3 separate regions of the Homo sapiens genome follow, and all the other regions are reported to be linked to region 1. Evidence: microRNA targets listed by miRTarBase, many of them from high-throughput screens and not tested one by one. Region 1 holds a microRNA gene; each other region holds the end of a gene's coding sequence.

Region 1 (3,345 bases):
TGACCCCAGCTGCCCTACTCTCAATTTAGGAGTCAGGGGGAGTTGCCACTGGCACCCCATCCCGACCTGGAGACACAGGAAAGGACATTTTTTTTTTTTTTGAGATGGAGTCTCACTCTGTCACCCAGGCTGCAGTGCAGTGGCGAGATCTCAGCTCACTGCAGCCTCTGCCTCCCAGGTTCAAGCGATCCTCCCACCTCAGCCTCCCAAGTAGCTGGGACTACAGTGGAGGCTGCAGTGAGCTGAGACCATGCCAATGCACTCCAGCCTGGGCAGTAAGAACAAAACTCGGTCTCAAAAAAAAAAAAAAAAAAAAAAAGCAGCAGCAGCAGCACAGAGACCTAGGTTCGAATCCCAGCTCCTCCACCAAGGCGCCTCCCCCTCTGCTTCGGTCTCCCCACCTGCAGGGTGGGGGTACAGCAGTGCCTACACTCCTGGCTGCTGTGGGGGCTCCATGAGATAAGCCCCCTAAGGACTGTGCCTGCAGTACACAAAAGCGCAATAAACAGGACCCATTCATGTCATGCCAGCCTGCAGGCAGATCACCCTGGAAGCACCGGGGTACGTGGAGCGGGGGTCCTACCTCCCTTAGGTACAGGTGTGGGTGATGGAAGAGGCCCAGGCTGTGCTCCAGAGACTTGGGCGCTCACCCTTGTCGAGCCCAGTCTCGCTCTGTGACCCTCCCTGGGGATCTGGGCCAGTCTGAGCCAGCCCCGCCCTCATCACCATCCAGCCCCACGTGGCTGCTCACCCGGGGCAGGGCCAGTGTGTCAGAGGCGTCAAAGCTCTTTCGCCGGTGGATGTGGTACCGGTGCGGGGGCTCCAGGATCGACAGCGGGATGCTCACCCTGCGCAGGGGGGCAGTGGGGGACCCCTGAGGAGCCTCCCAGCGGTTGGGGGCCCACGCCCAGGCCCATCTTTTCTTAAAACCAGTGGTTCAGGCTCTGTCCCCCAAGGTGTCCCAATACTCTGGTCACTCACCTGACGTGCGCTGGCTGCGCCAGGGTCCCAGGGCCCTGCTGGTCTCGCGGTGTCCTGCACAGGCGGCAGGGGGTACCGGGATCCACAGGCACCGGGAACAGGCGCCGGTTGACACGGTAACAGTACACGCCTGCGAGGCCCATGAGAAGCCACAGCTCTCCCTGAGCCAGGAACCCAGGTCCCCAGGCTCCGTGCTGCCCTCAGCGGCCCCCAACCACACAAGCTGCCAATCCCTCTGGGAAGCCCTTCGGCCCATTTCCTCCTAACCCCTTTCCTCCCAGAACCTGGGGCCCACGCCCTAAGGGGTGGGGAGGGACATCCTCCTGGGGCCCTCAGGAGCTGGGATGGAGTCCCACCAGCACAGGGGCACTGCTGGGGAGGGTGGGATGGTGCCACACAGGGCAGCCCCTAATTCGGTGGCCAGGCCTTAGCTCACTCCACCCCTACCAGGGCTTGGCCACCCTGTCCAGACTGCAGGCCTCCCTCCATGAGTCTCAACATCTCAGGGGCCTCCCCAGGCCCCAAACCTCAAATGGGACTGCTCTGGGGCAGGGGAGGCCAGGGCAGCGCGAGGCTGGACTACTCAGCGGCCTAGCCGAGGGCCCGCACTCACATTCATGGTCTTCCTCCACGCCGCTGCCACTGCTCTCACGCAGGCCTGGCAACTGGGGTCTGAGAGGGCGAGGGGGATGAGCAGGCCGGGGGATGGAGCCGCTCAGCCGCCCTCGCCCACCCTCGCCCGCCCCTGCTCACTCAGGATGGCTGCAGATACACTCCTCCTTGTTGGTTTCCCGAAACTCCTGCAGCTTGGAGAAGAAGGCCTCAGGCTGGCTGGTGATGGAAGAGCTGGTGTCCAGAGACCCTGGTGTGGGCAAAGCACCAGGCAGCTGACGGGAGAGGGGCTGGGGGCTGCTGTGTGGCCACCGGCCAAGGCTTGGAGAGACGATCAGCCCTGGCACCCCAGGCCACCTGCTTCATCCCTACTGTGCCTCAAACAGGCCAGGAGGGCCCCTCCAGTCACTGGGACTGTTGGTTGGTTTCAGTGTCTGTCTACCCTGATGCATAGCCAACCATCCATGGAAAAAATATCGACAGAGCCCTTATGACAGGGCTAGATGCTGTTTCATGTGCCAGGAACTAGACAGACAAAGCCCCTGGCCTTAATGAGGCTTACACTGTAAGGTGGCAAGAGATGAACTAGCCACCAAAAAAAAAAAAACCCGTGATACAAGACTGAATGCTGATACCTGCCAGAAAGCAAGAGAGCAGCGTCAGAGCCTAGTATGGCCGGGCAGCCATACCAGGGAAGGCCTCTCCGAGTGAGATGACCCTGAGCAGAGACATGGAGAAGCCACAGAGACCTCCCAGGAAGGACATCGCAGGGAGATGAAAGAGCAAGCGCAAAGGCCCCGGGGTGGGCATGTGCATGGTTCAGCTGAGGAACAGCCAGGAGGGGAAAGTGGCAGGAAGGCAGCGAGGGTGGAGGAGATGAGGTTAAGAAGCCCAGGGAGGGTCTGGGGAATGGGAGGGACACAACCACATCAGCCACATATTTTTACAGAACTCCTCCTCTGGCTGCTTCAAGTTGAGGGGAAGCAGAGGCATCGGTTAGGATTCAGCTGGGGAGAGGTAGGGGCAGCCCCCAACTTACCATGATTCGACTTAGGATGTTTCTTTTTTTATTTTTTGAGACAGAATCTCACCGTGTTGCCCAGGGTGCAGTGCAGTGGAGCGACCTCGGCTCACTGCAACCTCTGCCTCCCAGGTTCAAGCGATTCTCATGTCTCAGCCACCTACAGAGCTGGAATTACAGGCGTGCGCCACCACACCCAGCTAATTTTTGTATTTTTAGTAGAGACGGGGTTTCACCATCTTGGCCAGGCTGTTCTCAAACTCCTGGCCTGATCCACCTGCCTCGGCCTCCCAAAGTGCTGGGATTACAGGCGTGAGCCACCGCACCCGGCCTAAACAGTATTTTCAACTTATGTTGGGTGTATCAGGATGTAGCTGGATGGTAAATCCAGCAAGTTTATGGCCTGACCTATTTAGTATTTGGAGTTGCCATTTATGGAGACAGGAAAGACTGCAGGAGGAGCACAGCAGTGGAAATCAGGACCTTGATTTCGGACAGAAGGTTAATAACTTCATGGTGATGTGGAGAAGACAGTGGGATATACAAGTCTGGAATTCGGAGGAGAGGTGCGGGCTAGAGATACAAATGGAGAAGTAGAGAAAGTGTCCAAACACCTCAGCGTTTGGGAGATCATAGAGGGAAGATAGAGAGGAGGAGTCAGAAGACCGAGTCCCAGGCCTAGGGGTGTAGCAGTCAGAACAAGGACCTTTCCTTCCCCAGAAGCCTGGGAA
Region 2 (3,000 bases), not on the chromosome of region 1:
ATTTCAGCCCAAGTCCTCCGTGAACCACCTATGAAGTTCTCCCTCCTCAATATGAGTTGTCTAGACCTGGGGATCCCATTAAGTGGCAATCCATGAAGATCATTGAGGATCAAATCGATTATGTATGTGAGAGTGTTTTATAGACCATCAAGTTTCCTTCTTTCCATTTCAAAACCCTATAGAAAGACTAGGGGGATAAAAGAAAAAGAAGTAAAGAGGATTTGACCAAATTAATAAGTCCGATTTGTAGTCAAAGAGTTCTGTTAAATCCACATTATAGTTTTGTTTCTTTCTTTTTTTAGACACAATTAGAACAGTTACCAGAACACATCAAGGAGCCAATCTGGGAAACACTATCAGAAGAAAAAGAAGAAAGCAAGTCATAAAGCCTCAGGGAGGCCATTTTTGCCTAAATTTGAAATGAGGGTGGGCCAGATGAGTATGTTTAAGTGGAGAGTGCTTCCAGCTGAGATGATTTGAGTCTGCCCTAACTGCTCCATTGAGTTCTCGTGCCCTCATCAGCTGAGGGCAGGGAATGGAACTTTAATGGAAGAACCACTTTTATCTATTCTTTTTATTCATTGTTTCAGTTCTGATTTCAGCAAACATGAGCAAACCACTTTGACTGAAAGCAGAAAGAGTGAAAATTCTATTTTGTTACGCTACTGGTGTTCAATTATTAGTTTGTACCATTTTTAATTTATGTCAGTTGATGCATCTGAAAATAAGTGCTTGGAGTGTTCGTACCCTTATTTTTTTTTAAGATTCCTAGAAGGAATCTTTGGTTAATTCAGATTGAGCAGTTAAAGTTTTTGCTATTTACCTTTGTGCAGGCTGGCATATGCTAATTTGGGGGTGGTAACCAACCGATTTTATCTCATGTAAGCATTACATTTTGAAGACTGAATATACTTCACAGCAGATCAAACACATTTATGGCATGCACTGACCTCTTCTTGGAGCCCAGAACTTTATAGAGTTGCCTACCAGGGTTACTGTAATGGAATTTATGATCTTAAGAAATTACTAGTTGTATTATTTATCCTATGATTCATTCATTCAATAAGCTTTTACTGCATAAACTTTACATCCAGCACTGTAGTTAAGTACCCAAAATTGAATAGAAATAATGGCTTTTGAAAATCGCACAAAGCAGGCCAGGCACGGTGGCTCACGCCTGTAATCCCAGCATTTTGGGAGGCCGAGGCAGGCGGATCACGAGGTCAAGAGATCCAGACCATCCTGGCTAACACGGTGAAACCCCGTCTCTAATAAAAATACAAAAATTAGCTGGACATGGTGGCACGTGCCTGTAATCCCAGCTACTCAGGAGGCTGAGGCAGGAGAATTGCGTGAACCCGGGCCCGGTGGAGGCTGCAGTGAGACGAGATCGCGCCACTGCACTCCAGCCTGGCGACAGAGCGAGACGCCGTCTCAAAAAAAAAAAAAGAAAATTGTGCAAAGCATAGGTAAATATTTTTCTTTATTAAGCTTCTCACTGAGAAGCCCTCTTTATTTTGGTAAATGTCACTCTGTTTGTTAGGAGATGTCTGCTTTTCCATGAAATGAAATAGTGGCTAAAGCCCTGAAAGAGGCAAGACTACAATGGGCTGAAACAGTTGGTATAGCAACCCCAGAGAAGTGCTTCATTTTCTTTTTATAGTAGAAGCAGGTCCATGTCTTTTGTGGTTTCCTGCACATCTTTGGAGTAGTTATGACTTCTCAGTTTTTCCCCCCTTAAACTGCATTGCCTATTCTTTTTTCCTGACATGCTATCAGGTATCAGTGTGTTGAATACATACTGCTTGTGTATCAGACTTACGTTACTGTCATCACCATTAAAAGAATTGCAGCTTTGTGCCCCATGACCTTCAGCTCAGTTGTTGACTGTCATTCATGAATGCCTAAAGCATACTGACACCAGGTATAAGTACTTGAAGATCAAGAACTAGTCAATAAAACATGAGCAACATAATGGTAACTATGTGCAGCAAAGCAGCAATTTATGACACATTTTCATCTGAAGTAATTCTTTAAAAATAAATATAGACCCGGCCGGTTGTGGAGGCTCAAGCCTGTAATCCCAGCACTTTGAGAGGCTGAGGCAGGTGGATCACCTGAGGTCAGGAGTTCGAGACCAGCCTGGCCAACATGGTAAAACCCCATCTCTATTAAAAACACAAAAATTAGCTGGTCATGGTGGTGGGCGCCTGTAATCCCAGCTACTTGGGAGGCTGAGGCAGGAGGATTGCTTGAACCCAAGAGGTGGATGTTGCAGTGAGCCGAGATTGTACCATAGCACTCCATGTAAACCAAAGTCCTTAGTTTAGGACTTCCAATTATGTGTTAAAACCTCGGCTTAAATAAGCAAATGAACTACATGTGCACACATGCACGTGAGAAAAACTAGCAGTATTTCTTTTTTCTTTTTCTTTCTTTTTTTTTTTTTTTTTTTGAGATGGAATCTTGCACTGTCACCCGGTCTGGAGTGCAGTGGCGCGATCTCGGCTCATTGCAACCTCTGCCTCCCAGGTTCAAGCGATTATCCTGCCTCAGCCTCCCAAGTAGCTGGGACTACAGGCATGTGCCACCACGCCCAGCTGATTTTTGTATTTTTAGTAGAGATGGGGTTTCCCCATGTTGGCCAGGATGGTCTTGATCTCTTGACCTCGTGATCCACCTGCCTCGGCCTCCCAAAGTGCTGGGATTACAGGCATGAGCCACTGCGCCTGGCCCAAAACTAGCAGTATTTCTTCGACGAAAGTATTTGGCATATTTGAAGCCCGCTTCTTGATATAAACAAGTTTGGCATGAAGTACAGTACTGAAAAAATGATATAAACAAAATAACTTCTTAGCTTATCAGGATATAGCTATCTTGATAGGCTAAGAAGATTTTTGGTTTTCTTTTGTTGGTTTTAAATTAGGCCTCTGAGTAAAATGCATATCCTGAAAATTAGAATTAATGCCTGGGTCACACTTTCTGTCCATGGTGGGTATG
Region 3 (3,345 bases), not on the chromosome of region 1:
CTATTTGGTTTCTTGTCAGTCAGGTAGAGATGTTTGTGTTGGAGGCTCCCTGAGTGGTAAGAAAATGAGCAGCTGCTCAGGAACGTCCACCTCCTTTTCTTCTCCCTACCCTCCCTCCTTGGGTAGAAACCAGATTGACCTGAAATGTAATTTGGTTCCTTTTGCACAGAAAGATGGAAGTCATGTGCTGTAGCCGGAAAAGCTGAAAGCCTGGGGACCGGAGCCAGAAGATCCGGGTTCCGGTCCCAGTTCTGCTGACCTTGCAGTGGGACGCCAGTTATTCCATGTTTCTGGGCATCTATTTCACAGAGATTGAACTGGACAATGTCTAAGTTTTCTTAGAGCTCTCAATCCTATAAGATGGACAGATGCTGAATTCGCTCAACAGTAGGGAGACAGACCTTTCCCAGCTCTGGGCATCTTAAACAGGCATGTCCTCTCTCCCTGCAGGCATCTTGGCCATCCTCATCCCCCGCCTGGACCTGGTCATCTCCCTGGTGGGCTCCGTGAGCAGCAGCGCCCTGGCCCTCATCATCCCACCGCTCCTGGAGGTCACCACCTTCTACTCAGAGGGCATGAGCCCCCTCACCATCTTTAAGGACGCCCTGATCAGCATCCTGGGCTTCGTGGGCTTTGTGGTGGGGACCTATGAGGCTCTCTATGAGCTGATCCAGCCAAGCAATGCTCCCATCTTCATCAATTCCACCTGTGCCTTCATATAGGGATCTGGGTTCGTCTCTGCAGCTGCCTACCCCTGCCCCATGTGTCCCCCGTTACCTGTCCTCAGAGCCTCAGGTATGGTCCAGGCTCTGAGGAAAGTCAGGGTTGCTGTGTGGGAACCCCTCTGCCTGGCACCTGGATACCCTGGGCCAGGTAACCTGAGGGCAGGGGAGAGGTGGGGTGGCAGACACGCAGAAGTGCTACTAGTGACAGGGCTGCCATCGCTCACCTGTACCTATTTACACCCAGAACTTTCCAGCTCCCCCTCATCATGCCTCCTCCTTCCTACCTGCCTCCCCTCTGCTGGTGCACCTCGCCCAACTCATTCTTACTGCACAGTTCACTTTATTTAACAATTTTCATGTCCCCCACCTCATGTTTTCACCTTTTCTGGGCCAGGCATAGATTAAGTAACTGGGAACGCCCCCTCTTTATAAAGCTGGGCTTCTTTCTCATCTCTCTCCCAAATGTTGTATCTCAGTATTCTTCCTATTCGAGTCTCCAGGGGGTGGCTGGACCTACCTGGTCATTTGAAACAGGCCCCCAAGCTGGAGTTTTTAATCTGGACTCTCTGGCTTGCTGTGACCCCTAAGGCAATGCTTCTCTTCCCTGGATTCCTTAGTGTGGGTCACAGTACTGTGTTCTTAGTTGCTTTAGCTCTTAAAACATACGAAGTGTTGCCTAAACTGAAAATATTTATCTTTTATTTAAAATCAGATTTTTGTTTTTAGACTGTCTTAGATCTGGGGCTATTACGAATCACTTCTTCTTCAGTAAACTTTGACTCAACTTCTCCTGCTGAAAAGAAGCTCGCTCCAGATGTCTGCATGGGTCCTCGGCACTCTTGGCTGAGGACTCAAAGGTTTTAATCAGGATCGTCTAAAAATGTACCTCGGTGAGGAGGCACAGATTTTGCCTCCTGTTGACCAGCCTGGTTTCATACCGAAAAGACATTGAAGGACTGCAGAAATGTATGGGTGCACCGGGCCGAGGGAAGGGTGGCTGAGTGAGAGGCGTATAAAATGGGGCTGTGTGCATGCAGGCCCATGTTTCAGCCTCAGCCCACGCCAGGTGAAAGGATCAGCAATGCTCTGTTGCCATCGTGCTGGGACGACACCAGCTCTATTGCCACCGATGAGTAGCTGAGGTCAGTGTGCACAGAGTTTGAAATTAAGTTAATAGACTTTACAGCAGCTGGTCTGACACTACGCGCAGTGCTCGGTTGTTTACAATCAGTGGGGAAAAGGGCAGAACCAGTGCCCGGCCCCACACTGCCTCTGTGGCCTGGACTTTGAAAGGAACCCACTGAACACTAATTATGAGCCCTGTCTTTCCCCCAGAATGCCTCCCTGGGTTTCACAAACAGCCTTGAGGTTGGCCCTCCTCAAGGTCAGCCTTCAGATTTGGGAGCAAACTTCAGAGAAGGCAGAGGAAGATACATTGCCTTGCTGTGGGCTGCCTCTTCTTTCCTCTTGGTGTGCGAAGTATTTCAGAAGGCCATTGATGAATTCCCCCTCTTTAGCTGTGTATTTGTGCACGTGTGTGTGTACGTGCGTGTGTGTGTGTGTTCCTGTGTAAGTAACAGACCAGACTCCTTTTCTCTTCTGTCCCGTCACCAGGCTCTTGCTTCACTGCAGATACAGTTCACTCTGAAAGCTGGTTGAAGGAGAGCAGCAAAAATGTATCAGGGGTTTTGCTTCTGTGTTTCGCCAAAGCTCATAAGGGCTGTGACCCACCCATATGGCCCCAGTTTTTTCTGTCTCTTCTGTTCCAAAGCCAGGAGAGCTGACTTCCAGGTGAAGGGATGGGAAAAGTGGACTCTCATTGTAGTGACTCCCAACCTACCTAATAATTTGTTAACTTAGGAATATGCTATCATTGTTGACTTGTTCTTCCTTAGGAGAAGGACGATTTTCACCCACCCTTTCTGTTCTATGGTGGACTCTTAACAGGTGCTATGTGACCAGGAATCTAGCCGGGAGTAGCAGAGGCCCTGTCTTCTGAAGTCTCAGGCTTAGAAGTTACCAAAGTGGGCTCAGAAACTGTCATCTCCTGGTTCCAAGTTCGGGCTCTGGCAGCCCAGCCGCTATCTTAGCTGTCTTTCCCAGCGGTGCTAAGAGTGGTCTCAGTGAGAAGGTAGATGCCAACTGGAGGGCCAGACCTGTGTCCTGCCCATGTCCTCCTTGGTGGACGTTTCTGTTTACTCAGAGCTGCTAGAGACCATCCTGCCCATCCGAGTTCTGAGATTGGGACTGTGATGTTGGGACCTGAGGACTGGATGGTAGAATACTGGGGTCCCCCAGCTCTTAGCAGGATGCAGGCTATTGCTTCCACACCCCTGGCCGTGAGAACGTGGTATGTAGGAGAGTTGGCTGTAGCTTTAGGATTTCTGGAAGCCAATTTGGCATGGCCTATTTGATCTCTGGCTTGTGCTCCTGCTACACTGACAGACTGATTGCGTGGCTCTTTCAGAAGACCCAGGAAGGGCAGCTCCAGCCAGAGGACCTTCCTGGCTATGCAGGTGCACAGCTCTTAGGCATCAAGCAAAGGGTCAGCCAGTCAGTAGTAGTGGGAGGAAGCCCTTCCTCCTCTTATGCAAGCAGCTCGCAGCCAGCCCAGAATCTC

Evidence for each region. The annotated mature microRNA hsa-miR-6729-5p reads UGGGCGAGGGCGGCUGAGCGGC and lies in region 1 at 1,692-1,713, opposite strand. An mRNA with a match to its seed (bases 2 to 7 or 8) in the 3' UTR can be bound and repressed. Matches are read on the target gene's strand: a 7mer-m8 pairs with bases 2 to 8, a 7mer-A1 pairs with bases 2 to 7 and ends in A, and an 8mer does both.
Region 2: the mRNA of MRPS10 is a reported target of hsa-miR-6729-5p. The part of its 3' UTR that is shown has no 7-base or 8-base seed match.
Region 3: the mRNA of SLC36A1 is a reported target of hsa-miR-6729-5p. Seed matches in the 3' UTR shown: 8mer at 1,033-1,040.

The regions. Positions count from the first base shown.
Region 1 is chr1:12,027,531-12,030,875 of GRCh38, reverse strand. It overlaps MIR6729 (microRNA 6729), which reads right to left and starts at 1,718; the gene lies at 1,654-1,718. It overlaps MIIP (migration and invasion inhibitory protein), which reads right to left. Exons shown (of 10, transcript NM_021933.4): 5 at 1,735-1,843; 6 at 1,595-1,653; 7 at 982-1,111; 8 at 752-848.
Region 2 is chr6:42,205,675-42,208,674 of GRCh38, reverse strand. MRPS10 (mitochondrial ribosomal protein S10) reads left to right here. Exons shown (of 7, transcript NM_018141.4): 7 at 303-1,868. The coding sequence ends at 386. Among named protein-coding and RNA genes, the nearest start is that of MRPS10, 11 kb to the left of the region's middle.
Region 3 is chr5:151,487,533-151,490,877 of GRCh38, forward strand. It overlaps SLC36A1 (solute carrier family 36 member 1), which reads left to right. Exons shown (of 11, transcript NM_078483.4): 11 at 451-3,345. The coding sequence ends at 722. Among named protein-coding and RNA genes, the nearest start is that of MIR6499, 33 kb to the right of the region's middle. RefSeq lists an enhancer at 3,308-3,345.